4 separate regions of the Homo sapiens genome follow, and regions 2, 3 and 4 are each linked to region 1. The links come from fine-mapping of genetic effects on plasma protein levels. A gene starts in region 1. Each other region holds a variant in brackets. All regions are shown on one strand. Distances are between the middles of the regions.

Region 1 (8,101 bases):
CCAGAGGAGTCAGCTGTGGCCAGCTGGTCACAGCCACTGAAGCCACCAGCCTTTGTGAGTGTGATATGGAAGACGAGTGCCTGCTCCTGGAAAGCAAAGGCTCCAAGAGGGTCCTTCACCACCCCCGGCCCTTGTCCTCCCAGCACGGCTTGTGTGTGGCTCAGAGGCCAGGGCAAAGCCCTCCACTGGCCTCCCTTCCACAGCTGGCTCCTGAGAGTGGCAAACATAACTTTTCAGCTCCCGAACTGTGTAATTGTTGGGACTGGCTGCTCCCTCCCATCCTGAGCCTGGCTGCCTGTACTTGGAGGAGCCCTGTGTGTGCCTCTGCCAGAAGCAGGATCAGGACCACTCCTAACAGAGGCCCCAGGTCAAAGGCCCAGGCCCAGGGCCCGCTGCCATGGAGCTCTTGGCCAGAAAACTGCAGGGCCACTGAGCCAGCGCCTAAAGCCCGTGCCCTCTTGCACAGTAGTGGCCTAGGTTCTGTGACCTTCATGGCAGAGGGCCAATTCCCTGAGGGCGGGCCCTGGGCAGCAGGAGCACACCCCTGCTTAGGCACCACCCCATCTAGGGCACAGGCACACACCATTTCCCAGCAAGCTGGCTTTGGCCACAGGCTTCTTGGGTGGGGCCCAGGCAACGAGGGTGCAAAACACCCTGGCCAAGGGTGGGGCCAAACCACAGCCACTGCCCAGAGCGGGGACTCTTAGTCCAAGAAGCACTAGAGGTAGGAGTGACCAGCAGTGCTTGGCCAGCATGGTTGGGTGAACTCTGCTGGCAGGGAGGTGAGTATTACTGGGCCCTCTGTTGTCTTGTTCTCCAAGAACAATTGGAGAAATGGAGGCAGCACATACCACAGGTCACTGTAGCTTCAGAGAAGTTTGAATCTTCTTTTGCCCCTGGGTGGGAACATCCTTCTTCCTTCTTATAAGTGTGTTCTAAGCCTCCTTCTTTCCTCCTCCCTCCCACCCTGTGCTCTGTCCCATGCTTGGCTGGGGAGGCATGGACGCACACCTCCTGACCCAGCTAAGCAGGCCCCAGGTGAAACTAGGAGAGCTACGGAGATCAGGATTCCAGGGAATCTTTTGAAAGAGAAGTCGACGAGCACGAAGGAGGGCTAGGAGGGCTTGCTGGAGGAAGGTGAGATGTGGCCAGGGAGGTAGGGGCAGTCAGGGATGGCCACCAAGGATGCCTGGCCAAGCAAAGTCATGGGAAAGGTTGGAGGGCAGAAGGAAGAAGGCCCGAGCCAGACCTGAGGATGCCAGAGAGGCCCAGGTCAGCTCTGTTCAGCACTGAGGCTTCAGGGCCTTGGGTGAGCTTGCTGAGGAGCTGGAGAGGGGACAGTTGAGGAGCAGGCACAGCTGGTCCAGCAGCCTTTGTTCCAAGACAGTGGGAGGTGGTCAGGGGTCAGTTCCAAAGGCACACAGGGACCTCGACTTTCTGCCAGTCTGCCTGGCATGATGCTGCTCAGCATTGGTCCGGAGTTCCAGCCCTAGGTTACGGCTGAGCAAAGGCCAGGCCTGTGTGCGCTGGAGCCGCAGCATCCCTTTTCCACTGAGAGCCTCAGTTTCCTCATCTGGAAGCAGGGACACAGTTGGCCAACACATACGCTTCCCAAAGTTGTCAAGAGACCAAGTGAATGTTTTTTGTAAACTGGGAAGCCCCAGCAGAGATGCGCCAGCCGGGTTATTACCGCTGTGCTGGTTGCCATTATTTTCCAGGCCTGTGTTTCTCTGCCCAGCTAGCAACAAGGCAGGGGGAGGCTCCCAGCTAATCCAGACTTGAATCTCAGCTGTGGGTGGGAGCACCCTGTCTGGAGGCTCCACAGACATCTGTGTAGGTGGGGAGCAGGGAAGATGGGGAGGGGGTGGGGGGGGGAGATGGGGCCAGCAGAGATCTTCACCCAGATTTTTGATTCATAGAGCAAAAAGCCTTCTGTCTTATTTTTTCATTCCTGAAAAGAAAGCTCTTTTCCTCCAAACACAGTCTTCCAAGCAGCACCCCCACCCCCAGCCCCATAGCTTGTCAGTAATTAGCCCCTAATGAGGACCAGGTGTCCTACCGACTTGAGGAGAAGGAAAAACAAGGGACAGCCGGGCGCGGTGGCTCACACCTGTAATCCCAGCACTTTGGGAGGCTGAGGCGGGCAGATCACGAGGTCAGGAGTTCAAGACCAGCCTGGTCAACATGGTGAAACCCCATCTCTACTAAAAATACAAAAATTAGCCAGGCATGGTGGTGCACACCTGCAATCCCAGCTACTCAGGAGGCTGAGGCAGGAGAATCGCTTGAACCCGGGAGGCAGAGGTTGCAGTGAGCCGAGATCGCGCCATTACACTCCAGCCTGGGCAACAGAGCGAGACTCTGTCTCAAAAAAAAAAAAAAAAAAAACAAGGGACAAATTGTGGAATCAATGCCTTTACCGCCACTGAGGCCAGCCTAGCACAGCCTCCATCCCAGGCCTCCTAGGGCACCTGGATGGAAGCTCTTAGGTTTGCCAAAATCCCTACAGAACAGCAGCAATTGGTTTCTTAGTCAACTACAGCAGGCATTTATTGTACACCTACTGTATGCAGCAGCCTCTGGAGGAGAAAGTTCAAGCTTTACAACAAGGGAGGTGATATGTGTAAAGCTGTATGTAAACCATGAATCACAGGGAATGTGCAGGATGACAGAGACGGAGGAGAAAGGATAAGCATTTATTGAGCACCTACCGTATGCCAGGCCCTGGGCTAGGGACTTGAGGTACATTAAAGCATTTAATCCTCATTAACCCAATTTTACAAATGAGGAAACTGCCACAGAGAGGTGAGGGGACTTGTTCAAGGTTTGACAACCAAGTAAGGGAGCTGGGATTTGAACCCAGGTCTCTCTGGTTTCAAGACCAATACTCATAACCCCCACATGGACCAGGCACCATCACACCTGAGCACTGCACTTAGGGTCAAAGACCTGGCCCCACATCTCAGCAGCTATGTAGACTAGCTCCAGTCCCTTAATCTCTCTCAGCCTCAGTTTCTTCATCTGCAAAACAGGTCTCAGTTTCGTTGCAAAGTATGAAGTGCTGGGCTGTTACTGGTCAAAGGGAAGAGCTGGGAAGAGGGTGCAAGGTGGGGTTGGGCTGGAGATGGGCTGGAGCAGATAGATGGAGGGACCTGAATGGAGGAAGTAAACCAAGGCCCGGTAACATTGGGACTGGACAGAGAACACGCAGATCCTCTAGGCACCGGAAGCTAAGTAACATTGCCCTTTCTCCTCCTGTTTGGGACTAGGCTGATGTTGCTGCCTGGAAGGGAGCCAGCAGAAGGGCCCCAGCCTGAAGCTGTTAGGTAGAAGCCAAATCCAGGGCCAGATTTCCAGGAGGCAGCCTCGGGAAGTTGAAACACCCGGATTCAGGGGTCAGGAGGCCTGGGCTTCTGGCACCAAACGGCCAGGGACCTACTTTCCACCTGGAGTCTTGTAAGAGCCACTTTCAGCTTGAGCTGCACTTTCGTCCTCCATGAAATGGGGGAGGGGATGCTCCTCACCCACCTTGCAAGGTTATTTTGAGGCAAATGTCATGGCGGGACTGAGAATTCTTCTGCCCTGCGAGGAAATCCAGACATCTCTCCCTTACAGACAGGGAGACTGAGGTGAGGCCCTTCCAGGCAGAGAAGGTCACTGTTGCAGCCATGGGCAGTGCCCCACAGGACCTCGGGTGGTGCCTCTGGAGTCTGGAGAAGTTCCTAGGGGACCTCCGAGGCAAAGCAGCCCAAAAGCCGCCTGTGAGGGTGGCTGGTGTCTGTCCTTCCTCCTAAGGCTGGAGTGTGCCTGTGGAGGGGTCTCCTGAACTCCCGCAAAGGCAGAAAGGAGGGAAGTAGGGGCTGGGACAGTTCATGCCTCCTCCCTGAGGGGGTCTCCCGGGCTCGGCTCTTGGGGCCAGAGTTCAGGGTGTCTGGGCCTCTCTATGACTTTGTTCTAAGTCTTTAGGGTGGGGCTGGGGTCTGGCCCAGCTGCAAGGGCCCCCTCACCCCTGCCCCAGAGAGGAACAGCCCCGCACGGGCCCTTTAAGAAGGTTGAGGGTGGGGGCAGGTGGGGGAGTCCAAGCCTGAAACCCGAGCGGGCGCGCGGGTCTGCGCCTGCCCCGCCCCCGGAGTTAAGTGCGCGGACACCCGGAGCCGGCCCGCGCCCAGGAGCAGAGCCGCGCTCGCTCCACTCAGCTCCCAGCTCCCAGGACTCCGCTGGCTCCTCGCAAGTCCTGCCGCCCAGCCCGCCGGGATGCAGTCCGGGCCGCGGCCCCCACTTCCAGCCCCCGGCCTGGCCTTGGCTTTGACCCTGACTATGTTGGCCAGACTTGCATCCGCGGGTGAGTGAGGGGCCTGAGACCCCGACCCAGCCTGGCGGAACTAGAGGGGTTCCTCCGGGAGGGAAAAGGGACAGGAGGAGCCAGAAGTGGCCCCCAGATCGGGAGTCAAGCAGGCTGCGCTTCTCCCACCACTAGCTGGGGTCGCCAGGGGTTCAATCCTGGGGCGGACACGGGACCCCGCTATCTCAGGTTATGGGGTTTCTAGCTAGCCAAGGCTGTCCAGTTAGGGGCGGGAGCAGGCGCCCCAGGCATGGATTGCCTAGGGCGTGGCTTTGCCCGTTTGGATTGTCTGAGACACCAGTGGGGCCACCCCAATGCTGGCCGAGCTTTGTTTGCCAGGCAAGTTTGGGGTGAGTATGTTGGGGTCCAAAGGGACCCGGCGACAGTGAGAAGTGGGTCCTCCAGCTTCAGATGCCCTGGGCCAGGAATGGGGAGTGCTACAAGGTGGGAAACGAGGAATGAGCCACCCTGCCCTCCCCTGTGAGGAGCACCCCCACACCCCTCCAGCTGCCCCCCAGCTCTGCCCCTTCTTTCCTCCCCTTGCTTCCTTGCAGATCCGTCTATCTGCCACCTCCCCTCTTCATTCTCTCCTCTCCCTCCTCCTGTTGGTGACAGGCAGGACCCCCCACCCACTACCCACTCTCAGCCTCCTAGAGGGAGAGCTGGTGCCCCTCAGCGGGGCTTGTCCTACAGATAGCTCTGGACCACCCCCTGCCACACCTCCTCATCCCAGCACTGATGCCTGACCCAGCAGAGGCTGAATGGAAGTTCGCTTTCCGAGAAGTGCTGGGATATATCCCCTCTCTGTCCCGATGCCAGAAACCCCAACATGACAGCATTCTTCCTTCAGCGAAGGCAGCTCTAGTTATGCCATAAGAACTGTGGCCTTAGGGCCCATCCATCATCACTACCCACGTGTGATTCAGTGCTTCAGCTACACCTTCGAGATCATTCCCAAGAGCAACATGGAGCAAAGGCAGGGCCTGAGCCTCCTTCACAAGGGCCCAGGCCACACCCTTCTCTCCTTCAGATGGAGAAGCCAGCTCTAAAAGAGGGCATCACATGGTTCCCAGAAGGGAAGTGAGTCAAGGGAGGACCCCCGCGGGGTGAATCAGGGCTGGATCTCCAGGCTCCCTGTTCCTGCAGGGACCAGATCCCCTAAGATCTCAGGGCCTGAGGGATGGGCTGGGCCGCCAGGGAGATGGGAAGGGAGCATCCAAGGTGACCAGGGTGGTCAGCTCATTCAGGCCCCAGCCTCCAGCCAAGGAGGGATTCCAGTACCCCCACCTCCTTGGGCTTCAACTGAGAGCCATTCTCAAATACCTTCTTAGCCCTGACAGCATGCAGGCATGGTGCTAGGCTCGCAGGGGCACGGGAAATTGAGAGGCTGAACTGAGACTCATTCAGGAGGCAGAAAGGCAAATTAAATCTCAAACAGCAAAAATCTGGATGAAAAGTACAGAGGGGAGAAAAGCAGGGGCAAGCTGGGGCAGGACACAGGGTGGGCCTCAAACCAAGCCTTGGTGGATGGGAAGGGAGTCAGTCCTCCAGGCAGGGGCGCTGACTCAGAGGCACCAAGGTGGGCGTAAGCAGAGGGGTGTTGAGACAGGAAGGCCAGCAGCCTGGCTGGGAGGCGTATTTCGAGCACAGGCCAGGGAGAACCACTGGGCTGGGGCACAGAAGCCTTAAATGGCAAAATGAAGCCCACGGCCTTATGCCCTGTTGGCAAAGGAGATGCCACAAGGGTTTTAGGGCAAGAGAGCAGCATGGTGCTGTGGGGTTTTATAAAGTTACACCATCCCCTGCCTTTAGGAGGACTCGGAAATGAGGAGGGGCTGTGAGAGCTCCCGTCCAGCAACCCATCTCTGTCACCACTCCTGGTCCAGCTGCCTGCCCTGATTTCTGCAGTAGGGGCAGCCCCTGCCTGAGGAAGGCGTCCCTCCCACCCCTCCTGGATGCCCCTGGCTGCAAAGGCCCTCGTCCTCCCGTATCCGAATGAGGCGTGCTGGGAGGCTCTCCCTCTACTCATCAACATTTGAGGCATCCAGGTCAGGGGGCCTGGCAGTCAGCACCCTAGAGGCCATCTGGGCCAATCTTCCACTTGTATAGAGAGGGAAACTGAGGCCCCAGAGAGGAAGAAAAGTACTCTGAGTTCCACCAAGAACCCCAGCAGCCCAGGAAGAGCCCCCAGCCCTGCTTCGAGGGTGCTCCCAGCCTGCGTCGGGGCCTAGGCTTGGGCCACTGAGACAGTGTGGGTGACAGATGCGGTGTCCAGCTCCTTCTGAGCTGTATGGGAGGCCCCAGCAGAGAGCCAAGCATTGGGGGAGATTGGATTTGAGCTGATACTGGAAGGACAGGCAGAGAAGGAAGGAGGTGACATTCTAGTCGGGGGGTCACAGTGAGCACAGGGCAGGCAGGGGTGGTGGCTCCCACACCTCTTCCCTGGCATCACTGACTGAAAGGCAGAATGTGAGGGGTTGAAGTGGGACCCAGGTTGGGGAGTACCTGGCAGGGAGGGCTTGTGTGTTACCTGGGTGGGGACTCAGAACTGATGGGGGTATCTTAGTGAGCAGGGCCACAGGGACACCAGGTACAAGAAATTGAAGCAGGGTAGATCCTGCTGCCTCTGAGGATGGCTTGGGGGGACCGATGGTGCTCGGGACAGGCACTGAGCCTTGTGTGCACCTTGTGTGCCACCCCAGGCCTCCGGAGCAGGGCAGGGCCCAGGGGCCAGAGCCCTTGGCCCAGCCCACCCGGACTCGAGAAAAACTGTTCTAGAGCAAGTGTAACGGAGCCTCCCTCCCTACGCCTGCCCGCCCGGGCAGGACAAGAAGGGCCTTTTAGTGCTGCCCGCCTGGGGGGCCTGGGGTGGGCCATGCCAGGTGGGCCAGGCGGCTGTCGATGACGGCAGGAGGGGAGTAGGGTGCGTGTGGAGCTCTCAGAGGAAGTGTATAGGCTGTGTCTGGGAACTGGGCGTGCTGCCCAGGAGGGGCGGGCAGGGGAGGGGGAGTTGGAAATAGCCTTGACGTCCGCACTTACTGGCGCACACAGATGTGGGCACACACACTTGCACACGGCCACTCTCACAGACCTGGACGAGGTGGCTACTGCCTCTGTCTCCAAGTCCCCTACCTTAAAGATCTGGGCCAGTGGCACTTGCGGGGAAGGAAGTGAGCACAGGATGGGGACAGGGGTGCCACCTGAGGTGTGTCTTCTATTCAAGGCCAGGGGCAAATGAACAAGGGGCCTGTGGGCATGGGACTGAGGCCTGGTCCCTCCCTGGTCCCTCTGCTCCTTCACTGCCTTTCCCCCTGACTCCCGCCCCATCCAGCTCTCCTCTTGCCTCCAACATGCCCTCCGCCCCAGCATATGTCAGTTCAATAGAGCCTTCCAGAGTTAAGGCTCTTCCTCCAGCTGCAGGCTTAGGGCAGGTTTCAGATTTACTGTATTACCATTCCTACTGAGTTTGTATGAGGAATTTTTGAATGAACTGAATTTGTATGAACAATTTTGTACTTGGCTCCTCCGTGGGGCAAGGGTTCCTAGCTCTCTCCGCTTCTCAGGAGGGTCCGTAACTCCAAACAGGAGAGGACAGAGCTGTCTTATTGCTGTGCTCTTACCTTCAGGGACACCCCATAGTGTGCACTAACCATGTTGTTAGTCCTGCAGCCCCACAGCAGCCCTGCAGGTCAGGAAACAGTCACTGCAGCCTCAACCTCCCAGGCTCAAGCGATCTCCCCACCTCAGCCTCCTGAGTAG
Region 2 (8,101 bases), 1.3 Mb after region 1:
GAAGGCATTAGAACTTGAGGTTTTCTCACCTCCACCAGCCCCTCATTTCCCAGCAGATGTGAGACCTCCTTGGTGTGCATGTCAGCCCGTGATAGGTCAGTCTCAGGACGTTTCCCCCAGCATGGGGCCTGTCAGAGGAGCTCCCCCTCCCCAGCCACCACAAGAGCCCAGTCACTGGGAGCGCCCCTGCACCCTGGAAGGCATCCGAGGGATCCAAGCCCATTCCTCAGCTTGAGGAAATGGCAGCCCCTGCAGAGGGCCCTGACTGGCCCTGTGAGTGTGGAGGTGGGGGCGTCCTAGCCCTGATACATCCTTTCCTGAACTCCACCCCAATCATGGGTATAAACACAGGCAGAACATCAATGAAGTGAGAGGAGAGTTGTCTGCCTTGGCAGCCAGCACCAGGGAAGATGGAACTGTGGCTTGTCTACCTGTCTGGCCTTCTGTTGTTCTCTGTCTCAGTCTCATTCTGTTTCCCTGTTGGTCTCTGTTTCTATTCTCTCTCTCTCTGTCTCTCCTTGTTCCTATTTCTCTCTCTGGCTTGACCTCTTATGCTCACTTACACAAAACAAGCATGCATATATACAACAGGTGGGCACATGGGACCACACGTATGACCTGCTCACCCATACACACGTACAAACATGCACATCTGTGCACACATGCATCCACACAGAATCCTCCCTCCTCAGATCCTGTATGTATATTCAGAGAAGGGGGTGGTGGTGAAGCTCTCTTTCCATGTATCCACAGGCTCAGGGAGAACCCACAGTTAATTTCCAGGCTGTTTCTGCCTCCCTGTCACTGGCAACTGGGAGCTTGGAGGAATAGGCTGGGATCCCCACTGATATCTGGGACTCTGGTGGGGATCTCTGGGCCATCATAACCTGCCAGTGAAGAGCATGAGAGGGGAGGGGGAGTCTCCGGAGGTGAGCAGAAGGGACGAGATAGGAAGATGAGATGTTGAGTTAGCAGTGCACTGGCCTGGAGGGCTCTCTGGCTCCTTCCCCTCCTGATGCTCTTCCTGGTGGTCCTGCTGAGATGCCCTATGACCCACCTGAGAGCTGGGGACCAGGGACGACTGGACCACAGGAGGCCCCAGAGGGAGGCGCCTGCAGGGAGGGAAGCCTCCTCAGTCATTTGCCCCACCCACAGAAAGCTGGAGGCTGGACGTCCCTAGGGTGTGTGGCCATGAGGAGAGAGCCTTTATTCCTGTCCTTTCAGGACAATGGGCCAGATGAGGCCCCACCAGGTACTTGGGTTTCCTGGGTGGGTCGGGGCTTTCCTGGAATGCTCAACCTTCCTGGTGTCCCAGGGTTGAGGTAACTGCATGGGAAGAGGGTAGGCAGGAAGCCCTTACGGTCTGTAAGGACCTGTCCTGCCCTGGAGTCTGGGTTCAGGTGGTCATCAGAGCCTGCACGCCTCCACCACTCTCAGCATGTGGGCCTGCTCCCTGTTCAGAGCAACCCCCTTACTGAGCACCTGTGTGGTGCAGGCTGTGCTGGGAGGAGGCTTGTGAAGAGCAGGTGAGCTAGGACTGGGCACCAGAGAAGGAGGAGCCCCTTTCGCTGCTGGGGCAGGAGCTAGAGCCCCCACGGGCATGTTTTGGTGTGGGGACAGATTCAACAGGAGCCCAGGGATCTTTCTGAAATGTGACACTTGCCTCCACCCTCCTTGCCAGAAAGGGACATTGCTCAGCCACCTGGCTCAGCTTCAATAAGCAAGTAGTAATAGTGGTGAACAAAAGCCAAATGCGTAAGTCACGCACCTGCCCGGGACTGTTCTGAAACTTTGTGTGAATTGTCTTGGTTAGTTTTCTCACCAGCCCTTTGAGGTTGATACTATTACTATTGTCTCCATTTCATAGTTCAAAGAACTGAGGCTGAGAAAGAGTAAGTAGTTTACCAAAATTTCACAACAAAAAGATGCATCTAATCTTTGTCCTCAAGAAACAGGGGTTCTACTTTTACTTTTTTTTTTTTTTTTTGAGATAGGATCTTGTTCTGTTGCCTAGGCTGGAGTGCGGTGGCACGATCTTGACTCACTGCAACCTCTGCCTCCCGAGTTCGAGTGATTCTCTTGCCTCAGCCTCTTGAGTAGCTGGGATTACACCACGCCTGGTTAATTTTTTTTTTTTTTTAATTTTTAGTAGATACGGGGTTTCACCATGTTGACCAGGCTTGTCTCAAACTCCTGACCTCAAGTCATCCACCTGCTTCAGCCTCCCAGAATGCTGGGATTACATGTGTGAGCCACTGTGCCCGGCCCAAGCTCCTGCTCTCTTTGCTGGGTTCGCGGTTAATACAAGTGATACACACAGCAGAGAGAAGCAGTCAGGTGGGCCACTCTGGCAAAATGGCAAAGATCAGGTCTGGGACAGAGTCTGCCCCAGTGACCAGGGTTCCCTACACAGAGTCCATTAGCACCCGAGTCTTGGACCTCAGAGGAAGATGATGGGATCACTTGTTCCAAGACACCCTGAGGCTCTGAGACAGGGAGGTCACCTGTCAATCTGTCCTACTTGGGACCGAGGTGGGCTGAGAGGCCCTCTGCTTGGGCTGCAGGGCCCCTGCAGGGGTTGAGGATCAGCTTTCTCCTCTCATTGGTTCCTGCCAGAACCATCTTAGGGAGCAGCTGCTGTGGGGGCTGCTCTCCCACAGCAGGGAACCCACATCCTGCCCCATTACAGCAAAGTGAGCATCCGGTGGGGGAAGGACCCCCACGGGGGGCCTGAAGCTGATGAAAGTTGAGTCAGGGTGACTCAGTGGAAGGCCTCTTCCCACTGCTGTCTCCAAGTGGAATACTGTGGTCAGACCAAAGGAAGAACTTCCCAACCTCTGGTCCCACATCTGGAATGCATGCCAAAAAGGGGTCTCTGAGAGAACATGGCAGTTTGGCAGTTCTCAGGCTCTGTCATGCTACATACTGACCTCAGAAAGACCCCGGGAGGCAGACTGCAGATGGGGAAACTGAGGAAAGGGACAGGACCTGTACCAGAGCTGGGACTGTAGCTGGACCTTGAGTCTGCTCATCATGGGGGCACCTGCCCAAGGAGAGGGCAGCACCCCACTGCAATGCCCCCTATGTTTCCCCAGAGCCCCTCTCCTCCCATCTGCTCCTCAGAGGCCTTGTCTCGAGGTAGGAGTGGAGTGAGGGGGTGGGGGTTTCCCTGAGCAAAGAATAGTTCTCCTGTAGGATGCTGTTTTAAGAAACACACAAATAGACAAGCCACCCAGCCAGTCAGACAAGTTTGGCTTTCCAAACCTGTCCCTGGGGTGGCTGTTGTTGCCTTTTTATTTATTTATTTATTTATTTATTTATTTATTATTTATTTATTTATGTATTTATTGAGTAAAGGTTCATATAACACAAATTTTGCCATTTCAAAATGCACATTGCAGTGGTTTTGAGTATATTCATAATGCTCTATGACACCTACCTCTAGCTAACTCTGGAACATTCCATCACCCCCAAGAAACCTCGTGCCTGTTAGCAGTTACTTCCCCTTTCCTTGTCCCCCAACTAATGTACTTTCTGTCTCTATGCATTTGTCTCTTCTGGACATTTTTTAAAAAATTAAATTAAATAATTTATTCAGAGATGAGGTCGCGCTATGTTTTCCAGGCTGGATTCAAACTCCTGGGCTCAAGTAATCCTCCTGCCTGGGCCTCCCAAATAGTTGGGACTACAGGCGTGAGCCACTGCATCCAGCTTCTAGGCATTTCATATAAATGGAATTGTACATGTCACCTTTTGTGTCTGACTTCTTTCACTTAGCATACTGTTTTCAGGGGTTATCATGTGGTAGCCTGAACCAGGACGCCCCATCTTCTCACTGCTGAATGAGAGCTCATTGTGTGGCTAGGCCATGTTGCTTATCTGTGCCTCAGTTGATGGACATGGACATTGTTCCCACTTTTCGGCTGTTATAATAATATCCAGAATAACGCTGTATGAATATTTGTGTACAAGTTTTTGTGTGATCAGATGTTTTCAACTCTTTGGAACATCTATTTACCTGGGAGTGGGACTGCAGAATCCCATGGTAACTCTGTGTTCAACGTTTTGGGCAACTGACAAACTGCTTTCCACAGAGGTGATACCATTTTACATCCCCGCCATCAGAGTGTGAGGGCTCTAATCTTGCCACAGTCTCACCAACACTTGTTATTTTCTCTGCCTTTATTCTTTCAACACACACACACACACACACACACACACACACAGAGAGAGAGAGAGAGAGAGACATTGAGACAGGGTCTTGCTCTGTCACCCAGGCTGGAATACAGTGGTGCAATTTTGGCTCACTGCAATCTCCGTCTCCTGGTCTCAAGCAATCCTCCCACATCAGCCTCCCGCGCAGCTGGGACTGCAGGTGCATGCCACCACACCCAGATAATTTTGTGTATCTTTTGTGGAGATGAGGTTTCACCACATTACCGAGGCTGGTCTCGAACTCCTGAACTCAAGAGATCTGTTGGCCTTGGCCTCCCAAAGTGCTGAGATTTCAGACATGAGTCACTGTGCCTGGCCTTCAACACATATTTTGTTGAGCCCCTGCTTGGTGTCAGGCCTGTGCTGGGGTAGGGGATGCAGGGGTCCAGGCTGCTCTTGCAGAGCCAAAGGGACATAGATGTGACCCAGTGGTGGCTGGTGCTGAGTGGAGGGAAGGAGGAGGTGAAGTGATGGGAGTGACCTGCATGGACAGTCAGGGCAGGCTTCAGGGAGGCAGCGTTTGTGCCCTGGGAAGGTCTTGGCTGTTACTGTCCAATCCCAGCCTCTGTCCCTTCCCAAGTCCCCAGGATGAGTGGTAGTCAAGGTGCTGGGTGCCTCAGTGTTATAATGTGAAAAGTCTCAGCCTGGCCTGAAACTCACCCATTAGAGCCCTCACCTGCAGATTCTATGCCCACAGCCCAGGCCAGA[T/G]GAGGAAACTGTGGCTCAGAGAAGGGAATGACTTCCCAAAGGTCATCCCAAAAGGTAGTGGCAGAGGGAGACCAGATCCCTGATCTACAGATGCCCAGCCTGGGGTCCTTTTAGCTCTGATGGGGTGAGGCCTGGGGCAGCATGAGGCTGGGAGCAGGGAAGATGGGGGAGGGCAGGAGGCTGAGAGAGCCCAGGTGAGAGAGGGCCAAGCTTGAAAGGTTTTCCCAGGCTGGGGGAGAGGCCCTGGTCAGGATGTGTATGGGTAAGGGGTGAGATACAGAGGTCCCTGGGGCGGGCCCAGACCTGTTTCTCCTTTGCCCAGTTTCAGTTCTGTTTTGCTTGTCCCCTTCTGTTTTGCGTTCAGAGTGGGTTGGGGTGGTGGTGGGGTGACTCTTAGCCCCCATCTTGATCCCCATGGTGGGGGATGAGGAGATGGGCTTAACTCCAGACACCACTTTCAGTCCCCCTTTCTACCCCCACCCAGGGTCCCCCAGTCTAAGGGCGGATGCGGGAGGCCTGGCTGGGTCCGTCCTCACAAGGAGGGGCAAGCTGGGCAGAGCCTGGCTGGCCTCCCCTGCTGCCATACCTTGGAGCCCACAGCCTCCAGTGGGTAGTGACTGGCCCCAAATCTAGACATAGGTAATGTTTGCTTAGTGAGCTCATGTGCTATGGGACTAAGTTGAAATGCTCTGCCCCTTACTCATACACCCTTATTGACTCACAGGTCCCCAAGGTGAGTCACGCCCACATCAGGTATTGTGGGTGTATGAGACATACACCCACTGCAAACTGGGATGCAGTTTCCAGTCCCCCTGCCAGCATGCTTAGGGCACCAGGAAGGGCAGTGGGTGCTGATGGGCCCCAGATTTACCAAAGATGACTCCAGTTGGAGGCCTTGGACTGCTGTGGGCTTGTCAGGGGCCTTTGTGGCCCTGGGAGGAGGTGTCTGGGGCTGCTCCAATGTCTTTGGGGTCTCTCAGGTTGGGGTGGATCCTTTGGGAGTGCTGGGCACTGGCAGAGACTCAGGCCGCAGGGAGGGGACTTGCTTTCCCTCTGGCTCCCTCAGGAGGCCTCAGCTGCAGTGCTGGGTGCTGGCTGTCCTCAAACCCATGTCCTCCAGCCCCCTGACGTCTTCTCATTTCCTCATCTCAGGTTTCAGCCCACTCAGGCTGACGTTGCCTTCTGATCTCGTTTTTCAGCAGCCCCCAGGTCTCCGTGGCTGCTGTGCAGAAACGCGAGTGGTTGGGGGAAGTCCACATGATGCTGGCCTTGAAGAGCCTCCTGCCAGCCAGGCCTCAGGAGGGCTCACTTCCCCATTGCAGAACTCCTGCGGAGACCCAGGGGCAATTTCTGGTCTTTAGCACAGGGCCTCTGAGGGGCTGGCTTTTCCTAGGGGCTGCCCTGGTGCTGTGGCACCGTGGGGTGGGGGATTTCGGCAACGCCAGGGGCTCGACATGGCTGAAACTTCTTTGGACAGCTCAGCTACCCCAGGTAGAAGCCTCTGTCCCTCCCGGAGCCAGGCCTGTCCCAGCTTCGAAGTCAGATGTTGGGACATGCTGTATGCCTTTGGGACGAGTAGCCCCGTGGGCTCAGAGCTCTGACAGTGAACCCAGATGGGGTTGCTGTGAGGCACTGGGCGGGTCTAAACAAACAAGGTGCTGTGTGAGTGCATAGGTGCGAACAGGCTGCTCCAAGGGACTCTTGAATTGTCTTTGCGGACAAGTGGGAGTTAGCTGGAAAAGAAGGAGCTGCGTGGTCAGAGGCGTGGAGGCAGGCAGTGGAATAACCCATGTGGAGAACTGCAAGCATTTCCACATGACTGACTGGAGTGTGAGGGGGTGTAGGAGACCGGAGGGCAGGCGGTGGGCAGGGGGCTGGAGAAGGACCCTGAGGGCTCAGCCAAGGAGCAGGACTTTTCCTGAAGCAGCAGAGGCAGAGAGCCAGGCCCCTCCTGAGCCCTCTCACTTCTGTGCAGGGACACCTCCCAGTGAAGTAGGCCTGGGCCTCAGAGGCACCCCGACCCTGGCTGCTGACTCAGCTCTGCCTCTGTGAGGGCCAGTGGGGGGCTGCCCACATGAGCCACGGAGCCATGGCATGGCCTGGGGCTGGCTCTCCTGGGCTGCCCTCCACCCAAGGTCTTGAGGTTCTGCCATTCCCTCTTCAAGGGGTCTGACCATGCAGCCCTAGGTGGGGACGGACCCTGTAGCCTGCTCACTGGTGCCTGGGGTGCCACTGCCAGTCCTGCTCTGGCGCTGATGGGGAGGCAGAGGCAGCCGCCAGAGAGAAGATCCCAGGTGGGGAGAATGTGGGCAAGAGGCCATGCTCCCTCCTGCAGCCTTCATGAAGGCTCAGAGTGTTCTGGAAGTGTTTGGGGGCTGGCCTCATCTCCTCGGCTAGCTCCAACGCCTCCCGGCTCGGCCCCCACATATCACGCTCAAGTGGACCGATCCTGACTGAGGCAGAAAGTAGAACTGGCCCCTCACCATGCGCTCCAGCCCTACTGCTGAAGGAGGCAGGATGGCACAGAGGTGAGGGCGTGAATTCTGCATCACTCAGACTTGGGGCTAGATCCTGGGTCTGGTGGGGAGCACACTGGGCTGGCAAGGCCCGTCGTGCTTTACTAGCTACCTTTGACCCAGTAATCCCACTTCCAGGAGTCTGTCTTACAGAGACACCCGAACGAATATGACAGATGCACACACACCAAGCTGCATACTTGTGATGGCAGAAGATCAAAAACATTAATAGCCATCAGCTTGGGACTGATATATCCCAATGGTATGTCCCCATGATGGAATTCAAGACAGCTCTAAAAAGAATGTGAGACTGGGTGCGGTGGCTCACGCCTGTAATCCCAGCGCTTTGGGAGGCTGAGGTGGGCAGATTACTTGAGGTCAGGAGTTGAAGACCAGCCTGGCCAACATGGCAAAACCCTGTCTCTACTAAAAATACAAAAATTATCCAGGCGTGGTGGTGTGCACCAGGTACTCGGGAGGCTGAGGCACGAGAATTGCTTGAACCTGGGAGGCGGAGGTTGCAGTGAGCTGAGATCACACCACTGCACTCCAGCCTGGGCAACAAAGCGAGACCCTGTCTCGAAAAAAAAATCTGAAAGTTTTCTGTGTATGAAAGTGCAAAAAAGCTCTGGGATTTCTGTTAAGTAAGAAAGCAAGTAAAA
Region 3 (8,101 bases), 160 kb before region 1:
TCAAGAACTCAAAAAAAGTTTAGGAAAGCATATTAAACTTACATTATTAGCCAAAGGGTTCAAGGAGAAAAGTTTGCCATGGTCAGAACTATGAAAACTTAAATCACTAAAAAAACCTGTATTTGTCTACAACTGTCCTATATATACAGGTCTAATTTGAATCCCACCTCCCCCCAACTTTTTTTTTTTTTTTTTTTTTTTTTTTAAGAGACCGGGTGCCTCATTCTGTTGCCCAGGCTGGAATATAGTGATACGATCGTGACTCACTGCAGCCTTGATGTCTGGAGTGCAAGATCTTCCTGCCTCAGCCTCCCACCACCCCCAGTAGCTGGGACTACAGGTGTACTCCACCATGCCTGGCTAATTTTTTTTTTTTTGTAGAGATGAAGTCTTGCTATGTTGCCCAGGCTGGTCTCAAACTCCTGGGCTCAAGAGATCCTCTCACCTCAGTCTCCCAAAGTGCTGTATATATTTCAAATATAAACTGGTTATCACAGTCTCATGAAGTTATTAAATACACTTTTGTTTTTAAGTTCCCCTGCTCTAACTCCATAAAACACTTTATCCCGCAGCTGGTCCCTCTTTCTGTCCTTCCTCTTTCTCACTTTCTTATTAGACCTCAGCAACAGCTCATTTAAACAATCTAAGAACTATTTCTATAGAAACAAAGTCTAAAGTTCTAAGTAAAAGCCATAGTATAAAGGTATCAAGTTAGAAGGAAAATAACCTCCACTGTGATAGTCTACCATTGCAAAGAGTGGGTGAGCATTAAAAAGCCACTTACTTCTGCAGTTTAACATGCCAGTCATATAAACTGTCATTTATGAGTTCCACTGAATAAATCCCTGTTAAGATATAGAGCATGTTAGCTACTCTTCATTTCATCATATAACTATTACTATGGTATAAATGTATACACTAAATAGCCAACGAAAGCTAGAAATTTTGCTCTTAAAACATGGAACAACTAAGCTATATAGTAAATATTACACTACTGCAGCTGAGTATCTTATGCCCTTAACAGATAATTACAGCCATCAACTGAGAAGATTCTTTAATGAGTTGAAAAACTGCTTACCGTTTAGTCTGACTGAAAAAAAGATTATGCAAAATCATATGTACTTAAGACTTTTCTTCCATGAACACACATTTCTACAAAGATGGAATCCTTCTACGTATGTTGTTTTATAATCTCTCTTCAACTTTCAGGGACATCTTTCCAAGTTAGTATACATAAACCTATTCACAATCTTTTTAATGACTCTGTGGTAGTTTATTTTATGGATATGCTTTAACAAATTCCACCCAGTATCTGTTTTTTTTTTTCTATATAAACAATGCTGAAACAAATGATTATTTAACATTTAAAAATAAAACCAGTATTCAAATGTTTGTACTTTATTAGGTTTCTACAGATAAACTTTTAGACTTCTTACACAAAAAACCGTAAGGACACCCACAATTCTAACAACTCAGAAACAAGTTTGGCTTATCCTGCACACTACAAAGCAAGGATTTTTTCCTTGTTTTTATTCTTTAAGCAAATTCTAATTAATTTTGATTTGCTCACGCTAAGAATTCCTGAATCGGTCATAATGCTAGAATTGAATCGGTCATAACCCTTTTTTTTTTTTTTTTTTTTTTTTGACAGAGTCTCACTCTTGCTGCCCAGGCTGGAGTGCGGTGGTGCAATCTTGGCTCACTACAGCCTCTGCCTCCTGGGTTCAGGTGATTCTCCTGCCTCAGACCACTGAGTAGCTCGGATCACCAGGCGTGCGCCACCACACCCGGCTAATTTTTTATTTTTAGTAGAGATGGGGCTTCGCTCGCCATGTTGGCCAGGCTGGTCTTGAACTCTTGACCTCAGGTGAGCTGACCACCTTGGCCTCCCAAAGTGCAGGGATTATAAGTGTGAGCCACCGCACCCAACCAATGCTATCTTTTCAAATTAAAGTTTGGCTCATTATTTAATACTATTAGAATCTCCATAACAATATGAGAATTTTACCTCTAGTTAGAGAGGTTCCATAACATTCAAGTCATATTGAGTAAGAATACTCGTCAAACAAGGAAATGAAAACTTTAAAAACTTATATATTTTAAAGGTAATAACATAACTATCTTTACAATAAAAGCTGATTATCTTGCTTTCAAAAATGGGGGGGAATCATAAAAATCAACTTGGCAATTATTCTCTGTAAAATGAAATGTTTTACTCTTATTTACTTTCCAAGCAATATCGCTCATGCTTTCCCCAGAAGATAAAAATCATGTAAGAGTTCACTGTTTATCAAGAAGAGGACAAAATTCCAATGGACCTATAAAAACATTTTTTAAAAATCCAAAAGACAAGTAAACTCATCCTATTTTACTCCTACATCTTTTGGAACTTGATTGCATTTGAGTTTCACATTCCTGAAATAAAGCTAGTAAACATTTCCATTTCTGTCCAGTTTTAAGAAATGACATTTATAATCTGACAATAGAAAAGAGCAGAAGAATCATAAAGAGAGCAGGGATCCAGAGATCCTTACCTGTTTTATAACTCTGTGATCTGTATATGTCCCTGAGCTCTTTCATAAGTCTATCTGAAGCTTGCACTGACCCAGACACTGCACCCTGAAACACAAAAGCCACTGTTTACCAGGGTCTGCTGAGCTAAGATTTAAGATATTTCAACCTGATCTAAAAGATTACAGCAAAAATGGATCACCACTCAACATTTTTTTTTTTTTTTTTTGGAGATGGAGTCTAGCCCTGTTACCCAGGCTGGAGTGCAGTGGCGCAATCTCAGTTCACTGCAACCTCCGCCTCCCTGCTCAAGAGATTCTCCTGCCTCAGCCTCCCAAGTAGCTGAGACTACAGGTGCGCACCACCACGCCCAGCTAAATTTTGTATTTTTTTTTTTGGTAGAGACGGGATTTCACCATGTTGGCCAGGATGGTCTCAATCTCTTGACCTCGTGGTCTGCCTGCCTCGGCCTCCCAAAGTGCTGGGATTACAGGCATGAGCCACTGTGCCCAACCTCAACATTTTAAGAAGTAAAAAAAAGCCCAATTAAATGAAGCATTATGAAGTTTCAAGAGGATATTAAAACTAGGCACAAGTCTAGTTCATTTCCTATTTCTTCTCATGTGAAAAAGTCTAGCCAACATGTCCAGACCACCATGGATTCCACAATAACAAAGAATTCAGTATGAGTCTATTCCAAACCCCAGCAATTTTTGAAAATACTAGAAGACACTCAAGGTGACACATTATTTACTAAAATAGAGTTCCATTCATAAGACTACAAACAAGAATATTACACAGATGGTCTAGTTCGCACATTAAGACACTGAGAAACATCTGCCTACATGCGACTGGTTTCAGTTTTTCAGTGCAGGGACATCTCTAAAGATGAAAACACATCAATATCTTATCATAAGACTAAATACAAACGGAACTATTTTTTGGTCACGTGAAATTAAAGATTTTAAACATTGCACTATACTTTGAAGGGGGGAAAAATCAAGTTTCCTAGCTCATTTCATATCTACAAAATATGAGAAGTTTTTCCTATCTCTAAAATATGAAGCATACCTATTTCACACGGTGGCTATGAAGACTAAATGTGAAGATATGTGAAGTATAAAGTACTTGGCATAGTATCCATCATGCAAAAGTGTTCAGTAACTTATAGTTGTTTTGACTATAACTCAAACTGGAATCGATCACAAGACATAAAGTACAGTCATCATTAATTCAAATGACAAACTTTGTTTTTTAAGTAATCAAGATATGGGGGCTTGACTAAATTTCTTTGCTCTACTAAAAATTATAAATTAGATTAATATATAAATTAGACTGAAGGAGGGAGAGTAATCTACCTGTTTTCAACATTTGGCATCTACTTACCTAACAATTCATTCCCTGTTTTGGGGAACCTGTGCCCAAGACAAAGTAACTGCTACTCAGATTTCACGGAGTTGGTCAATAGCTCTAACACAAGGCAAAAAGTAGTAAGTGTTCAGACAATCATTTGATGTTTCCCTACTCTGAGCATTTTATATATATACACACATCATTTTCATTTATTTTTGATAGCAATCATCCAAAAGGTATGTACTGTCTAGCCATATTTTAGAGCTGAGGAAAGTGAAACCATAAATTGTGTGTTTGTCACCAGACTCAGTGTTCTTTTCACATCCTGCTGCTTCACGTAAAAGAGATATTAAGTTGTGGCCGGACACAGTGGCTCACACCTGTAATCCCAGCACTTCGGGAGGCCAAGGCAGGTGGATCACTTGAAGTCGGGAGTTCAAGACCAGCCTGGCCAACATGGTGAAACCCTGTCTCTACTAAAAATACAAAAATTAGCCAGGTGTGGTGGTGTACACCTATAATCCCAGCTGCACAGGAGGGTGAGGCAGGAGAACTGCTTGAACCTGGGAGGTGGAAGCTGCAGTGAGCTGAGATCATGCCACCACACTCCAGCCCGGGAGACAGAGCGTAACTTCATCCAAAAAAAAAAAAAAAAGGATGTTAAGTCAAAAGAGAAAAATTACTTTTGGTTGGGTCAGAGCAGGACAGACCAAAGTCAGCTTCACGAAGGAGAAAGAACTTGAATTGTATTTTGTCGGAGAGGATGAATTTGAATATACAGATCCCATGAGAGGAAGGTAAGCAGAGAAAACAGCATAAACAGGCCGGGAAGGGGCAAATACAGGGATCAGCAGGTGGTTCCAGGATATGA[A/G]GAGCAGATGAACAGGGTAAAAAGTGGCTATCTATAGATAAGAAACGTAATCTACAGCAACAAAACATATGACTAAGGCTAGGCACGGTGGCTCATGCCTGTAATCCCAGTAGTTTCGGAGGCCAAGATGGGAGGATGACTTGAACTCAGGTGTTCAAGACCAGCCTGGGCAACAGAGAGTCCTCATCTCTACTAAAAATAAAAAAAACTAGCCTGGCATGGTGGCATGTGCCTATAGTCCAAGCTACTTGGGAGGCTGAGGCAGCAGGATTACTGGAGCCTGAGAGATCAAGGCTACTACACTGAACTATGATTGTGCCACTGCACTCTAGCCTAGGCGACAGAGCAAGACCCTGTTTTAAAACACACATGACTGAATCCACCACTAAGGCAGAAATGGAGGAAGAGGGCAGCTGAGATGGGCATGTTAATGAATTGCCTGGTATTAACTACAATTATTTAACCACAAAAGTCCAGGTTCTAGATATCTACACACACTTACATTTAAATGGTCTTGCCTTTGAGTCTTCCTAATTTTCTCTAATATTGCCAAATTTTCTTTTTCAATTCCTTCATCCTCTGACTTTTTCCCACTAATAGGCTCTTCTTCCTTCATCTCATAGTGATCTAAGTCTTCTATATCCTACAAAGAGACGAAAAATGTTAGCTTATTCAACCTATTTTTCTTCAGCAGTTTCTTATGCCAAAATAACATTAAATTATTCTTGACTCAAATGAGGAACAAGAAACAAAATGTAACTATCCTATAGGGAGAGAGAAAAAGCCCCCACATTCCATTCAAGAGGCTCCCACCTTTTATATCCTATATTTTATTTAAAATCTAGACTCTGGGTAAAGCAGATTTAAAAGCTTTACAAAATCATAACTATTACCAAATAAGCCATCTTCTAAATCTCCTATTAAGAGGAACCTTTAAAACAGTTTAGCAGCAGGTGTCAAGAACCTTAAGTGTTCCTAGTTTGTTCCAGAAACTCAACTTCTAGAATTGTATTCTAAGAAACTAGTTTAAACTATAAACACTAATTTAGGCATAAGGATACCTATTTCAACCTTGCAGCCACAAAAATAAACACAAAATCTGCATGTGCAAAATAGCAAAATATTAAGAGGCCACTGAAATACTAACATAGCCTAATTTCTCCTGTAACGAAAAACTTTAAAATGAAAAACAATACAAAAAAGAATAGAAAGAATTTCAGTTACGCTGAAATAAGCACAGAAAAAGAAAGACCAGAAGAACTTACATTGAAATGTTAATTTCAGTTAATCTTAGTTATCTCTGGAGGCATTTAATGCTTTCCCCTAATTTCCAAGTTTTATGTAGTAAGCATCTATTGACGTTTATAACTAGAAAAAAAGTTAGAAAAAGAATTTTATCTCAGGTCCTCAGGAGGCTGAGATAGGAAGATCATGTGGGCCCAGGAGTTTGAGGCTGCAGTGAGCTATGATCATGCTACTGTACTCCAGCCTGGGTGACAGAGCAAGACTCTATCTCAAAAAAAAAAAAAAAAAAAAAGGAAAAGAAAACAAAGAATTTGAATACCCCTAGACCAATATCTTTATTCACATCATTCTGCTCCCTTCTTTCCCGTACTATCTGTTCTTACACATATATAAATCTATGCAGAATTTAAATCCTAACTTTTTGCAATTACCTTATTTCTCTACTTCAATTGCCAAAATCTCTAAAGGAGTAGTTTATACGCATCTCGGCTTTTTTTTTTTCCCCAAGCAGGCTAATTCACTGATTTCTAGACCAGGTTAATCACTACCTTCTATCCATTCAATAGGCCTCCTTTTTGGGTTTATTTTTTTATTTTTTGAGATGGAGTCTCGCTCCGTTGCCCCGGCTGGAGTACAGTGACAAGATCTCGGCTCACTGCAGCCTTCACCTCCCCGGCCTCCTTTTTGGAATGCCATCTCTTCAAGCCCTATAACGTTCTGTTCTCACTCAAACTCTGCCCATGACTCCATACTTCATTGAGCTCCCTTCTCCCTGTGTGCACCTTTCAGCCCTGATCTTCCATCCTACATGTTTTCCTCACAATTCTCACAAATGCCTTTAGCCTGTATTTCCTCCTATACCTTCAACCTCAGTCATGTTCCCATCCACGAAATTTCTTTTTCTGAGTATTAATCAGCACATCCCAAACAGAATTCAACATTATCTTTCTCAAACAATATCCTCAGCACACTATTCCCTGCTTAAGGCCTTCCTATCAATAATTATGGGGAAAAGCAAGACAGATCAGCCTGTTACTGTGTCTGTGTAGAAAGAAGTAGACATAGGAGACTCCATTTTGTTCTGTACTAAGAAAAATTCTTCTGCCTTGAGATTCTGTTAATCTTTGACCTTACCCCCAACCCCATGCTCTCTGAAACATGTGCTGTGTCAAACTCAGGGTTAAATGGATTAAGGGCTGTGCAAGATGTGCTTTGTTAAACAAATGCTTGAAGGCAGCATGCTCCTTAAGAGTCATCACCACTTCCTAATCTCAAGTACCCAGGGACACAAACACTGCGGAAGGCCGCAGGGACCTCTGCCTAGGAAAGCCAGGTATTGTCTAAGGTATCTCCCCATGTGATAGTCTGAAATATGGCCTCGTGGGAAGGGAAAGACCTGACCGTCCCCCAGCCTGACACCCGTAAAGGGTCTGTGCTGAGGAAGATTAGTATAAGAGGAAGGCATGCCTCTTGCAGTTGAGACAAGAGGAAGGCATCTGCCTCCTGCCCGTCCCTGGGCAATGGAATGTCTCGGTATAAAACCCGATTGTACGTTCCATCTACTGAGATAGGGAAAAACCGCCTTAGGGCTGGAGGTGGGACATGCGGGCAGCAATACTGCTTTGTAAAGCATTGAGATGTTTATGTGCATGCATATCTAAAAGCACAGCACTTGATTCTTTACCTTGTCTATGATGCAAAGACCTTTGTTCACGTGTTTGTCTGCTGACCCTCTCCCCACTATTGTCTTGTGACCCTGACACATCCCCCTCTCGGAGAAACACCTACAAATGATCAATAAATACTAAGGGAACTCAGAGGCTGGCGGGATCCTCCATATGCTGAACGCTGGTTTCCTGGGTCCCCTTATTTCTTTCTCTATACTTTGTCTCTGTGTCTTTTTCTTTTCCAAGTCTCTCGTTCCACCTAACGAGAAACACCCACAGGTGTGGAGGGGCAACCCACCCCTTCAAATAATCACACCAAATAGAAACACACCTGTCTCGAATTCAAGACTTTTAACCATCTGCCTTTTCTAGCCAATCTTGTTTTTTCATGACTTCCACCCATCAACCCTCCTCAAAAGAAAAGTATCCAATGAACTCAAACACACTATGTCCA
Region 4 (8,101 bases), 52 kb after region 1:
CTGGCCCCTGTTAGACCATTAAGGAGCAGGAGAGGCAGCAGAAGGGCAGCTTGGAGGCTGCTGCAATAGTCCAGGTAAGCCTAGTGGTTTGGACCCAGGTGGTGAGAGCATTACATTTGGGGTCTCATTTGATGGACTAACAAGGCTGTGCTTGTGGATGGGATGTGGAATGAGAGAAAGAGAGGAGCCAGGCATGAGCCCAAGGTGGGCCTGAGGTTCAGGGGGAGAGGAATTGTCTTTTCCAGGCTGAGAAACACAGGGAAAAGCTCGTGTGGCTGAATGACTATAGATACCAAGCGCCAGCGCCACCACAGGGACATACACGCAGGTAGGTACAGGTGCACACACTGACAGGCACCTGCAACCACACAGGTGGGTCCACACACTCCAGGTACCAGATGCAGGCAGAGACTCCATCACCCCACCTCTGCCTGCCCCACCTGACACCCCAGCCCAGCCCCAGGGCCAGAGCCCTTTTTGGCTCAGCACTCACAAGCCCCCTTCCCCGAGTCTCGACATTTTCCTGCCAGCTCTCACTGCCCCCATATTGTCTCCTGGAGTAAGGAGGCTCCTGAGTTCTTCTCAGAGACCAGAGTCCTGCTCCTGCCCCCAGCTCGCTGCCCATGGCCTCACCTGTCTAGCCCCCTCCTCCACAGCCAGAACCTGACCCCATGCCCCAGCCTCGGGCCTTCCAGAAAATTATCTCTCCACAAATATTTGCTCAGCACTCTCTGTGGGCCAAGCCCTCTGACCTTTCACCCACTGACTTGAAGGAACACAGCCACCTCCACCCAATACCCACCACCTGCCCCTCACGGCCACCTGCCCCTCTCCCTCCCCATTCCCTTCGATTCCCAGCACCCTTGTGTTCACACTGCAGCAGGACAGTGGCCCCCGCCACGCCTAGCCCCCCAGCCTTCAAAAGGCAGCCTGGTGCGGTGGGAAGGGCACGGCTCCAAGTGCAGGCAGACCTCAGCCCAGGCCTGCCATGGGGCAGGTGCGCAATCTCGCAGTGACTCAATGCCTCTGAGCCACCGTCTGCTGGAAAATGTTGACAATAGGAGTTCCTACCTTCCAAACAGTCGTGGTACCAGCACAGAGGACTGAAAAAATGGTAGCTCTTGTGCACTCAGGCCCACCCAACCTGGCTGACCTGTGTGGCTTTGAGGATGCAGCCGGCCTGAGGCAGTGACAGCATCCACACTCGTGAACTCGTGGCCATGTATAATCGTGGTAACCATCGCTTGAGTGATGCTGGAGGAAACTGAGACTGAATGATGACCTTACATGAGGTCACCCAGTGAATCTGTTTATGGGAGGCATTGGGTATGAGACTGGGGCTCTTAACCTTGGGCTGTGCTATCCTGTATATGTTGGTATATGTAACTGTTAGTGGCCCAGCGGACCCCTCCTGCCCTGGATGACAAGTACAATGACAGCCAAGGACCCCAAGGAATCTGCTCCCCACGGAGGCAGTGTGGCAACACGGGGCAAGGCTAAAGGTCTGGGGGTGGTTGGGGGCCTGGTTCCAGGCCCAGCTCTGCCATCTACCCACTGTGTGGCTTTAAAGGGCTTGCCCAGTCAGTTTTCCAACCTATGAAGTGGGGGTACCAATATTCTTAGCACTCTCTCTCCCCAGGGCTGCTCCAGCTCTACTCAGGCTGATGACCCCACCTGCTCCTCAGTGGCGCTGGCTGTGCAGGCACTGCCCAGATGATGTGTTCTGCTCACGTCACCCTCCTAACAGCCATCTGGAACTCCCCTCTCAGTGGAGAAACAGAAGCATGAAGCAGTTAAGAAACATCCCTACAGCAAGGCCACACTGGTCAGGATCTGCACTTGCCTCTGGGCGGTAGAGGGAAAGGAATGGGGTTGGGGTGGGGGCTGCTGCTATCTGGGGGCAGCAGGGCTATATGGAGGAGCCTCATACTCCCTTGCTCCAACCCCAGAGCACTCCTGCCAAATGGCAGCAAGGGGTGCGGGTCAGCCCAGAAGAGGCTCCAGGTGCCTCCAGGCTTCCGCCAGCCTGTAACACCCGGCCCTGGCACTGGCCATCTGCCTCTCAGCACAGGTAGCCCAGGCCTGGGTACTGTTTCGCACCAGCCTTGGCTACTCCAGCACCCCCCTCGCTGGACCCCATTTCCTGGTGTGTAAAATGACAGTAATAATCTCTTGCACATGGGGTGGTTGTAAAATAACGACCATCCAGTGCCCATCACAGTGCTGCCTGCACTGGGAGATAGTAGAATCCCCAGAGGCTGGGAGATTCCGAAGCAGTGGGACTCATACCCCCATCCCAGGTAGAACCCCAAGAAAGGAGCCAGATCCCAGAAGAAACAGGGTGGCATGGGGTGTCTAAGCGGCACCCCAGAGCTCCCTGTGCTTGACTGCGAAGTGGGAGCTGTGGAATGATGACCACAGGCCCCAGAGGGGGCCACAGGCCACAGAAAGGACCTCTATCAGCCCCTTAGTACAGGGCAAATGGAAGGAGCCCTGAGTGCCCAAGAGCAGAGAAGAGCCAGACACACAGAGACTCAGGATGGGCATCAAGGGAGCATGCAGGGGAAAGGCAGGAGGCAGGGCAAGATGATCGGAGGGCCCAATGCTGACCAGGACCATGGCGGGCATCGCAGGCCCAATGGCAGCATCCAGGTCCAGGAGTTCTGCAAGAAGCAACCCGTAACAATGTGTGCTGCTGGGTGGGCAGGGCGGGGAGGAGGGAAGAGAGCAGAGCACCAACAGAAAGGGGCAAAATCAAAATTAATACCGTTTAATTAAGTATCTACAAGACAGGACACAAGTCATAAACTGAACCCTTTAATGTGGAATGCAGGTAAATATTAATATGTATGATAGAGTGTGGGATTCAGCCTTTAAAATGCAAAGCTCCCTAAGGTCTTCAAATGTGCCATCCCCAAAAGTTCTACACATCCCTGGGGAAAGAAAGGGTCCCCAAATTGATGTGAGATTACACTTCTACCATGTGGGGAATGGGGGAGGAAAACAGAAATTCAGGTCAGATATAAAAAAAAATTAAGTTATGTTCCTCACTCATGTTCCTTTGTAAACGGAGCTCCTGAGTCACTGCAGCTGTCACCGTGCAGTGCCATCTTCAGACCCTTCATCCCTCAGGGCTGGGGGGACTCACCCTACCCTCTCACCCTTCACATTTCAGCCGTTGGGTTCACCAGCCTCCTATCCCTTCACTCATCTAGAGGGGAAATCTGCCTCCCCTTCTTCCTTTGGCCCTAAATGAGTTCATCAGTGTGACTCTAAGGAGTGATGGCAGGGAGCTGGGTTTGAGTCCAGCCCCGCCAGAGATTCCCTGTGTGAACCTAGGCAGGTCCCATCTTCCCTCTGGCCAAGTCTCAGTCTCTTTGTTGCGAAAGGGAATAAATGCTGCCTACTGGGGCTGCTGAGCAGATCCAGGCCACAGCTATGCGACACTACTTCTTAAACAGACTGCACTGCACTGGGGTTTGACCAACAAAACAAAACCAAACCAAAAGAAAAAAAAAGTTTGTGTTCAACTATGTTGAACAGAGCTGGGTTTCACAATCAGCCCTTCTGAGCTATGTCGGGGGGTGGTGAGGTTTGATTTTTCCCCATGGTCTTCCTACCAGGGCTCACCGTCTTCTCCTGCCCCAGCCAGTGGAGAGGGGAACCAGAGCCGAACTAGTGGGGAAGCAGGTTAGGGTGGGTGGGGGAGCTGAGCAGGCTTGGCTCCTGGAGGCCTGAGTCAGCGGGCAGGCGGGCAGGGCGGGCTGGGTCCTCACATGCTTGGGGAGGAGATGGTGCAGGAATGTTCCTCCCGCCCAGGCCTAGGCCCTGCCCACCGCATCCTGGCTC[C/T]GGCTCCCGTGGCCACTGCAGCTCAGCTCTAGCTTGAGAAGGGAGCTGCCTGGAGCTCTGCTGGATCGGTTCAGCCAGGGGCCTTCAGAGGCAGCCTGGCCCAGAGGATTGGCCCAGGGGAGGGCAGGGCCAGGAAACAGAGTCTGCCCAGAGCCAGGCTCTGGCCCCAGAGTATCCCCTGCCCTGCTGGGTGATAAGGCCAGCCACCACTGCTCCCTGGGCCTCAGGCGCCCATCTGTTCAATAAGGAGCTGAACTTGGTGGTATCCAGTCATCCCAATTGCATCCCTAGACCTCAGGCTGTGTGCCTGTATGTGGTGCTTGTGACTGGCTCTACTCCCCCTTGGAGACACCCCCTCCAGGGGTGGTGTCTCCAAGCAAAGCTCTCCTTAATCTCTGATGAGGTGGGGACCCTGGGAGGTCATGCAGGTGCAGTCCAGGCACAGAGATGCTTATGACACCTTTGCTCTGTGCAAGCATGGCTTTGTGGCGGTGTGTGCCCGAGTATGTGTCACTGTGTGAGGCTATGACCATGTGCATAGGACTGTGGTGTGGCTGTGTCTGACAAAGTAGCCACTGGTGCTTTGAATGGATGGCAAGGCATGTGTGGCTGTGGCTGTGAATGTGTAATAGCGTGTGGCAGTATGACTGTGTGAGCATACAGGCATGCTTATGTGGCGTATGTGCCTGTGGGCAGGTGTGTGACTGCGTGTGCTTGTTGTGAGACTGAGCGATTACATTCGTGAGTCTGTGAGTGTGTAGACACGTGGAAGACATATGGCTCTGTCATCTGGGAGGGGTGGTGCAGAGCAGGGGCCGATGGGGCCACCTGCCTCTCCCAGGCCTGGCTCTGCTCCAGCCAGTGGTGCAGCCACGGCACAGTGGTTCATAGCCCTCCTGTGTCCAGCGGGTGAAGAGATGCAGGATCTGAGGTCTGCTTCCATCCCCAGCCCCCATCTGTGGCCACAAAGCGGATTCCTTTTCCTGTACTGGGCCAAGACTGGTGACCAGGGGATCCCCTACCCCGGGTGCTGGTAGCTGTCCAGGGCAGAAAGAGAAGCCTTGTTTTCCACCCCCTCAGAGCAAAGTAAGGGAGGAAACGAGGCAGCTGGGTCCAGCCGAGTCGGGAACATCTGCCTGGCATGTGACGAGGCAGGAATCGGCCATCACCAGGATGCCCCCAACACTGGTCCCCCAATCTCCTGCTGAAAGGGGCTTAGCTACCCCAGAACGGCCCCAAGTTCCCCCAATACCCCCACCCCCATAGAGGCAGAAAGAAAAGAGAGAGGAGGGCCAGGACAGCCTCCCTCCCTGCCACACACACACCTGCCCCAGCCCAGAGACCTCAGGATACCAGGAGCAGGCCTGGCATTATCCCAAGACTCCACTTCCTGATGCTTCTCCTGGATCCAAGTCCCTCCTGAGAAAAGTATCAGACTGATGGCCTCACCCTGAGGATGGAAGGCCTGGGAGGTGGTCCCCTCTCAAGGAAGGCACACAGAGGACAACACTGTTCCCAGAGCAGGAAGCATGAGCAGGGGACTTTCCAGGCACCATGGGTTAGGAGGAGCATTCCCACCAGCCCTGCCTCGGCCTGGCCCAGCCCCCACTGCTCAGAGCCCCTTCTGCAGATGGCTACATGGATGGCAGAGCTGAGAAGAGGTTAAGGGCGGGAAGTTCCTCGGATGGGTTAGAAAATGGGGCAGGGTGGAGAGAGGGGAAAATTCCTCAGAAAGTCCCAAATCTGACCTAATGTTGACCAAGGGCCAGGGGGACCCATTCCAGAAGTTCCTCTGAGGACGCTATGCCCTGAACAGGGAGTCCTGCCCGCCCCTTCCCCCACCGCACCTGCTGGCCCTTCTCCATCTTCCTGCACAAGCTCCCTGGTCCCTGGTCTAGCCAACCTTCCCTGACGGCCTTGACCCTGGAAGCCCTCCCTCCACCAAGTCCCCATTGCCTCCAAAGGAGAGCCAAGTCTCAACCAGTACCCTCCTCTCATCTGTGGATGAACAGATCCAAGAGCAAGGTCCGCTCATCCTGATCAGGGCACCCCCAACAGCCAGCGTCCTCTTCAGTTTCCAATGTGGGAGCCTCCGCAGGGCTGGGTACCCAGGACGGTTTGGGGAAGAGACACAGCTTCTGAGTCCCCCACTTCCCTCCCCTGGACTAGGGCTTTTCAAGGGCAAGGCCAGGGCATGGCTCCTTGGGGAGAGGAGCCACCATCTATTAATTGTCCTAGGGCACAGCGTCCTGTCCCTTCCTCATACAACCCTCAGCCCCAGATCACAAGGCAGTACAGCCAGTCCCCTGGGCAGCACTCCACCTGTTTTAGAGACAAGAGTGCGTTCTAGGGAGGGATGGATCCACCCAGGGGTCCACAGCCGCCTCTAGCTCCTCCTGCCTGCTGGCACCTTCCACCAGCATAGCCCTCCCCTGAACTTTTGAGGTTCTGTGGAAAATTTGTGCCCACCACGACCTCAGAATCTCATCCAATGGCTCTCAGGAGCAATTAGGGCTCTATCCTTCTCCTGCCCTCCGCCTTTCTGGGATCCAAACAGAAAAAGTCATGCTTGTGTTATCTTAATTGTAAAAGGTTTATCAAGAAAAAAGATTCAAGGAGCAGCATCCAGGAGGAGACCATGACCCCCCCGGGGGCAAGGGGGGCAGTGGTGACACATGTCAGCACCCCACAGCAAGCTGCTGGACCACACCCTGACCTGGGTGGGGAGGAGGCAGAAACCCCTCGGGGATGTAAACATAGGTCAGAGACAGCACAACCTGACGGGGAGCAGGGGCCCACATTCCAGCGAGGCAGACAGAGGGCAGGTGGGCATGGAATCCCTCGCATGGCTGGGCAAGCAGGCCCCTGTCTTTTTCCTCTTAGGTTTCCCATTGTGCAACAGGAAGGATCTTGGGAAGACAGTGCCACAGAGCCCAAGGACCCTGAGATCCTGGGTTTGGACCTGCTTCGAGTGTGGGGAGTTATTGCTGGTGAACTCAAATATACAGTCACTTTTGAGAGTCTTCTCCAGGAAGGTGTCACCAGGGATCTGGGGCCCAGGGCTTATACCTCAGCACCTTGAGTCCGAGGAGGGGAGGATGCTGCAATGGTCCCCTGCCCGAGATAAGCTGAGGGCCCAAAAGTGGAGGGGAGTCAGAGGCCTACAGGAGGGAGATGGCCTGTAGCCCCCTCCTGCAGGGGACAGGGTGATGTACGGACAGCCAGCAACATGGGAGCAAGGGAGATCCCTTCCTACCACACAGGCCAGAATCCCCATGGAAAGCGTACCTAACTTGCTTGGAAAGTAAGGGAGAGAAGAGGGAGATGTTTGCATGCCTCCATAACTTTGCCCATGCTGTTCCTCTCCCCTGAAAGTCCTTCTCCCCCATGTACTGTCTGGCAGGCCCTTGTCATTCTTCAAAACACTGCCCAAATGTTGCCTACTCTATGGAGTCTTCCCTGACCAGTGGAATGCTGTGGTCCCTTCTATGAGCTTCCAGAAATCCCTCACTTAAACATCAGTCATACTGCATTGACTCTGTCTGTGTCTGACCCCGACCTTCACTGAGGACTCCTGAAGAGCAGGCATGTCACAGCCCTGGGTGCCCAGCATCCGACCCAAGGGTGCAGCAGGCCTCGGTGTCTGCTGAATGGATAAGGCAGCAGTGGCCAGGTGAGCAAGCAAAATAGGCTCTAGGGGAGGCTGAGACCCTGGCCTGACCTTCACTGACTGACCGGCAGCCCAGGCCTTGGCCTCGAGGGCTCCTGACTCTATTCTCACCCCTGCTGTGCCCCACTTCTAAGGAGTGGGGAATTTCCCAGGGGCACCCATGACTCCTTGAAAGCTCCTTCTCCCAGGAGGCAGGACAGGCCGCTTATCTCCCCCACCGCTGACCCCTCCCCCAGTCACTGCTGGTATAGGGAGGTCGGGAAAGTGGGGTACACTGCAGTGACCAGGCCCAGGGGAAGGAGGGGGCCCAGGCACACGCGGTCAGAGGTTGTCATACATGCGCAGGGTCTTCTCCAGCTGCTGGCCCACCCGCTGGTAGAAGAGGATCTGCTGGCGCAAGTAGTTCTGCATCATGTGCTTGAAGTCGAGCTCACGGCGCTGGTGGAAGTGGTTCATCTCGGCCTGCAGGGCGAAACCCACCACGCGGCAGCGCCTGCGAATGCCGTCTGCCTCGTCCTGCACCATGCGGCCCTCGTCACTCATGCGTTGGCTCTCCTTCACCTTGGCGAAGGCGCCTGGCAT

Which allele goes with the higher level. Alleles are on the strand shown, and positions count from the first base shown. The strength of an association depends on the size of the effect and on how common the allele is.
As copies of G replace T in region 2, the plasma level of the protein whose gene starts at base 4,162 in region 1 goes down (moderate association).
For the plasma level of the protein whose gene starts at base 4,162 in region 1, A is the high allele of the variant in region 3 and G is the other (moderate association).
As copies of T replace C in region 4, the plasma level of the protein whose gene starts at base 4,162 in region 1 goes down (weak association).

What was found. PIP is the chance, under the fine-mapping model, that this variant and not a neighbour inherited with it causes the effect. The UK Biobank Pharma Proteomics Project read protein levels with antibody pairs (Olink). The fine-mapping took linkage between variants from a reference panel, not from the people measured, so its PIPs are less certain.
Region 2: its variant is fine-mapped to the plasma level of the CSPG4 protein (UK Biobank, PIP above 0.99).
Region 3: its variant is fine-mapped to the plasma level of the CSPG4 protein (UK Biobank, PIP above 0.99).
Region 4: its variant is fine-mapped to the plasma level of the CSPG4 protein (UK Biobank, PIP above 0.99).

What each region holds. Positions count from the first base shown.
Region 1 is chr15:75,708,909-75,717,009 of GRCh38, reverse strand. It overlaps CSPG4 (chondroitin sulfate proteoglycan 4), which reads left to right and starts at 4,162. Exons shown (of 10, transcript NM_001897.5): 1 at 4,162-4,342. The coding sequence starts at 4,255.
Region 2 is chr15:74,394,677-74,402,777 of GRCh38, reverse strand. It overlaps LINC02255 (long intergenic non-protein coding RNA 2255), which reads right to left. Exons shown (of 4, transcript NR_146881.1): 4 at 8,022-8,101. Among named protein-coding and RNA genes, the nearest start is that of MIR6881, 13 kb to the left of the region's middle. RefSeq lists enhancers at 57-106, 836-1,336, 2,617-2,846, 2,605-3,105, 4,978-5,027 and 7 more. The variant T/G (reference allele first, on the strand shown) is at 4,924.
Region 3 is chr15:75,870,705-75,878,805 of GRCh38, reverse strand. UBE2Q2 (ubiquitin conjugating enzyme E2 Q2) reads right to left here. Exons shown (of 13, transcript NM_173469.4): 5 at 5,238-5,378; 6 at 2,535-2,619; 7 at 785-845. Among named protein-coding and RNA genes, the nearest start is that of FBXO22, 29 kb to the left of the region's middle. RefSeq lists an enhancer at 6,519-7,468. The variant A/G (reference allele first, on the strand shown) is at 4,736.
Region 4 is chr15:75,656,955-75,665,055 of GRCh38, reverse strand. It overlaps SNX33 (sorting nexin 33), which reads right to left. Exons shown (of 2, transcript NM_153271.2): 2 at 2,755-8,094. The coding sequence ends at 7,841. Among named protein-coding and RNA genes, the nearest start is that of SNX33, 13 kb to the right of the region's middle. RefSeq lists enhancers at 2,897-3,470, 4,619-5,192, 7,165-7,664, 7,665-8,101. The variant C/T (reference allele first, on the strand shown) is at 3,850.